Linked DNA regions of Homo sapiens: region 1 is linked to region 2. Evidence: fine-mapped expression QTL. Tissue or cell type: whole blood. Region 2 holds a variant in brackets; the other region holds the start of a gene. All regions are shown on one strand. Distances are from middle to middle.

Evidence for each region. PIP is the estimated chance that this variant, and not a neighbour inherited with it, causes the effect.
Region 1: it holds the start of ZNF831, and the variant in region 2 is fine-mapped to the expression of ZNF831 in whole blood (INTERVAL, PIP above 0.99).

The regions. Positions count from the first base shown.
Region 1 is chr20:59,162,285-59,165,047 of GRCh38, forward strand. It overlaps ZNF831 (zinc finger protein 831), which reads left to right and starts at 1,537. Exons shown (of 6, transcript NM_178457.3): 1 at 1,537-1,923.
Region 2 is chr20:59,217,248-59,220,010 of GRCh38, forward strand. The region is part of intron 4 of ZNF831 (zinc finger protein 831); the gene reads left to right. Among named protein-coding and RNA genes, the nearest start is that of ZNF831, 55 kb to the left of the region's middle. The variant A/T (reference allele first, on the strand shown) is at 1,361.

The DNA.
Region 1 (2,763 bases), 55 kb before region 2:
TTGTTGCATTTGCTTTTGAGGACTTAGTCTTAAATTCTTTGTCTAGGCTGACATTCAGAAGAGTATTTCCTTGGTTTTCTTGTAGGATTTTTATAGTTTGAAGTCTTACATTTAAGTATTTAATTCATTTTGGGTTAATTTTTGTATATATTGAGAGGTAAGAGTCCAGTTTCATTCTGGAATTAGAGTGGCACTAATCACTCTATTCAACATTCTTCTGCATATGGTTAGCTAGTTTCCCCAGCACCATTTATTGAATAGGGGGTCCTTTCTTTCACTGTTTATTTTTGTTGACTTTGTTGAAAATCAGTTGGTTTTAGGTGTGCAGCTTTATTTCTGGGTTCTCTATTCTGTTCCATTGGTCTGTGTGTCTATTTTTATACCAATACCATGCTGTGTTGGTTATTGTGGCCTTGTAGTATAGTTTGAAGTCAGATAATGTGATGCCTCTGGCTTTGTTATTTTTGCTTAGGATTGCTTTGGCTATTCGGGCTCCTTTTTGGTTCCATATGAATTCTGGAATAGTTTTTTTCTAATTCTGTGAAAAATGACATTGGTAATTTGATAGGAATAGTGTTGAATTGCTTTGAGCAGTATGGACATTTTAATGATATTGAGTCTTATAATCCATGAGCATGGAGTGTTTTATCATTTGTTTGTTTTCTTTCAGTAGTATTTTGTAGTTCTCCTTGTAGAGATCTTTCACCTCCTTGGTTAGATGTATTCCTAGGTGTGTGTGTGTGTGTGTGTGTGTGTGTGTGTGTGTGTTGCTATTGTAAATGGGATTGTGTTCTTGATTTGGCTCTCGGCTTGAACATTACTGGTGTATAGAAATGCTACTGATTTTTGTACATTGATTTTTGTATCCTTAAACTACTGAAGTCATTCATTGGGTCTAGGAGTCTTTTGGTGGCAACTTTAGGGTTTTCTAGATATAGAATCATATCATCAGTGAAGAGAGATAACTTGACTTCCTCTTTTCCTATTTGGATGCCTTTTATTTCTTTCTCTTGCCTGATTGCTCTGGCTAGGATTTTCAGTACTATGTTGAATAGAGTGATCAGTGCCATATCTTAAAAATAAAACCTAATTCAAACAAATCCATGTTGAACAAAATATCACCATTTTACATAAAGACAGCATCGCAGAAATCTTTCACTGGGACCTCCCACCATAGTCAATTGCAGTGGAAATGCTCATTCTGGGCCCTCAGGAACCTCTGGGGTTACATGTGGAGGTTCTGCAAACACTTGTTCCATCCACATCTCCAGGAAAACGACCACCTAGGCTCTAATTCTTAAACTTGCCTGCACAGAACAACCTCATCTCTAATGCAATGTTTTTTTGCACACCTACATTTCTGGGCAGCAAGCTCTTTATAGGTTGTTAGGTCAATAGTAACAATTACTAAAGAGCTGAGCGGTGGCTCTTTTTTTTTTTTTTTCGTGTCTGCTTCTATCTCTTCCTGTTTTCTAAGGGTTGCTACCGTGACGTTAGGTAATGTATAGGAAATAATTTACTTCCTATTTCTGGGCCATACCAAGTTTTATCTCTGCTTGAGTCTCTTCCAGGTTGCTTGAAATGGTGCTTTTCTCAGTTAAACGTGGACTTGACATAAAGGCCAAGCCACAGGAGGCTGCCCTCTTTTATTTTATTTTATTTTCTAAGGCTCAGGGAGCATCTCTCCGTTCTCTGAGATGCTGCCTGCAGAGTAGGAACTGGGAGAGAACACTAAAATGCCCTCTCAGCAAAGAGTAGCGAGCTCCCTACAGAGAGTGAGAGCACGGGCTCTTGAGCTCATCTCTTCTCTGTGGGGCCAGCCCAGTGGTCCTTTCTGGACCTGTGGGTGTCTTCTCTGGGCAACCAGATCATTGTGTTTGAATCAGAGCATCATTGGCTGAAAACACTCCACTGTTTATAAAGGTATGTAACATGCTCCATGACATAAGCATATATAAAATGTCAGTTAAAAAAAAACTCTTTTACTCTATGTTCTTAATGATATATTTATCTTCAAGCACGCAGTTAAAGGGAAAATGCTACGTAAAACTGTGTGTGACCCAGTTCAAGTAATTCTCTCATGTGCTTAATACTGCTGTTGCTTTTGTCAAAATATTTACTACAATTCAAAATGGCTGTCAGAAACCAGGTCCACAATCCATGTTCTACTAAACAGAAAAACATTTATAAGAAAATTTATTGCTTTATAAACTGTTTTTTTTCCCAGTGATGAACCTAATTAAACTGAAAGTGTGAATTGGTTAGAACATATTAGCCCAAGTATGTGTGGTATATATATACACATATATATGTATGTTTTATTAGGCCAAGTTTTTTATTTGTATATAATATAATTGAAATATCAAGGTATTTGATAGAGCTACTATTTATAGCAATTCTACTGATCAGCCACCCAAGGGTAGCATTTTTCAATGAGATTTACAAGGGCCAATAGTCCATGTATTTATACACATATCTGACTTCCCAGTATCCAAAATAGCAAAGAGCTGGAGGCTATCTCAGATCAGCCATGGAAGCCATGCTCTGAGAGGTAACGTGTTTCTCCTTTCCCGTAGCAAATCTTTCTGTAAGAATGAAACCAGAGATGTTATCTACCAAAATGCAACGAGGGACAGGATGCAACTTAGAAAAATGGTAACATTAGCTGACTGGGAAAAACAGAATCAACGTCAGGGCCAGTTTAAAATAATATGCCTTTTAACCACCCTCGCTTTATTGCCCCAGCTAAGAGCAAGTATTTAG
Region 2 (2,763 bases):
CAAAAATGTTTTGTGGTTCCACACTGTGAAAACATGTAGCTCTGTCTCAACTTCCTGAGCAGGGACAGAGTCCCTCTGGGTGGGAATACTCTTATTTATGAAGCCATTCTCCTATTAACGAAGAGTTTGGTCATCACCAGTGTTTCACACTTGCATCATGCTCCTTGGACACACTGTTTATATCTCCTTAGCCCAGGCAGGGTTTGCTCTAGGGAATAACCAAGAAGAGAAATTGCTGGGTCTTTGAGTGTTGTGTTGCACATTTTTAATAGCCATTTTCAAATTGCTTCCCAGTTTATACCCCTACCAGTAGCATATTAAATACCTCTCTTTTCCTCCAGTTTATAAAACTTTTTCTTCTTTTCCCCTTGGATGAGTAAAAGATGCTACCTTCTATGCCTGTGGATGGGAGGGCCTTTCCAGCCCTCCTTGATTCTCACTAGGGGTCTGTTATCCATTCTGTCCGTGGAAGGCTGGCATTCTCTAGTAGAAAAAAAGAACATGGAGGGACGATAAGACTCGTTTATTTATTTATTTATTTTTTTAAATCACAGAGAAGTAAGTTTCTCTTGACCAGATGTTATGTCCACTGGGCACAATTTGATATTCTCACCAAATATTAATAGATGTGTTCCTCAGCAGAGGCACGATGGATCAGCCTGCTCTGGGGGGACTCTGTCACTGCAAAGGACATCAAGGCCTTCCTCTGTGCCCAGCCAATTCATTAGACCCAGTTAGCAATTTGCAAAAGAGATGAGTTGATCTGCAGGCTGCCAAGCCCCAGTGTTACTCAGCTACCTCCCAGAAAGCTCAGAGAAGCCCTGGCCTCCCAGGAGCCTGAGAGAGCAAATAGTAATATGTGAGGCTTTAGGCAGAGGCTGAGCAGAGTCATCATTCCTCATTATAAACAGAAGCCAGAGAGATGAATTTCTCAGCCCTTCCTGGGTTAGGGTGGGATTTGGGGCCATAGTCCAGACTCCCGGGATAAAATGAGAAGGCTCACAAAGCTGGGGCTCCCAATATGAGAGCAGTGTTTCTTTTTTCAAGCTTTTATTATTCCCAAACAGATTCCCTGGTTATCTTATTTTGAAATGTTGCTACTGGAGGCAGAACTTTAAACTCTGCATGCCTGTATTAGGAGGGACTCTTTGAGGTGTGAGGAAAAGAGGCTTGATTCAAATTGGCTTAGACAAACAAACAGAACCCAATTCATTATCTCACAGAACAGAGAGAATTGCTTCAAGCTCAGCTGGGTTCAGAGGCTCTGCAGGTGGGTGTGTTCGTCTCTCTCCATCTCTGGGCAGCTCTGGTCCTGCCCAGCTGTTCCATGCTTGTGTTAGCGTGACTGTTTTTTTTTTTT[A/T]TATATATAACTGAGTCCCTAAACTCAATCTAACTGGCCTGGTTTGGTCATGTGGCTGTCCTTGACCCTGTCACTGGGGATGTTGAGCGGCCAGGTATGGGTCCTGCACCTGTCCATGTACTGAGGGTTGGGTTGGGGCCATCTTTTTGCTACAGCCATTAAGAGGAGGCCAAGGAGGGCAGATCACCTGTGGTCACGAGTTCAAGACCAGCCTGGGCAACATGGTGAAACCCCCTCTCTACTAAAAATATAAAAATTAGCCGGGTGTAGTGGCATGCACCTGTAGTCCCAGCTACTTGGGAGGCTGAGGTAAGAAAATTGCTTGAACCCAGGAGGTGGAGGTTGCAGTGAGCCAAGATCGCGCTACTACACTCCAGCCTAGGTGACAGAGTGAGACTCTGTCTCAAAATAAAAAATACAAAATAAAAAGAGTAAATGAGAGATGGTTCCCCCTAAAGAAGTGGGGGTCAGGCAAGTAATCACAGCAGATGTCCCCTCTTCCTCCATGCAGACATGGGGAAACCATCTTACTCATGGCTTAATGCAATTAGGTATGCATTTGTGAGCCACTGAGTGTCTTTTGAAGCCCCATGAGAGGAGAGGAACAGAAGATGGCTTGAGCCCTCACCTCAAGGAGGTTAGGAACCGGTTGGTGGACCAAGACACCTTTGTGAGACAGATGAGAGTCACGTGGCCTGAGGGTCCCAGGTAATTACTGGGGCCTGTTCTGTGCCAGGCAATGTGTGGGAGCAGGAAGAGAGGCAAACAAGAACATGACATGGCCCTTGTCCTTAGGGAGAGCCCAGTGTGGCAAGGGGAGCCGGCACAGACTGGTAAACAAGTCATTACAAATGCAGTGCGGTGAGCTCGCTGATATGATTAAGCTTCCAAATGAGGGATCCTGACAAGGCCTGCTGGAGCGGAGAGGGGAGAGTGTGCTAGCATAAACAGGAGCATAGCAGGGGGTGGGGCATGCTTCCGACGCTCACCCCAAAGGCTTCTCCATTCGGCCCCCCACTGCAGAAAGGAATGTCAGCAGGGCATGTGGGAGAACCGAAGGCCGTCACTCTTTATCATGCCTTCTTTCATCCCTCGATCATAAAGAATTTTTGCCATATACTCTAAACTGCTGGGAATGGAGCACTTAACTACTATGTACTTATTTATCTAAAATGCTAAGTGTTTCCCTTAGCAATCACTAATAGATTCCTGTAGAAACGGAGTGCCATGATTAGAATTCTGATGTCTGTGCCGACAGAAGGTGGGAAGGCAACAATAGGTAGTGCACTAATGATGGGTTCAGTGGGCAGGTGGGTGGGTAGGACGATATAGTCATTGAAGGAGAAGGTTGAAATATGGGCATTTTAAAGATAAATATGTGTTTATGTTAAAAGTTGAGAGAG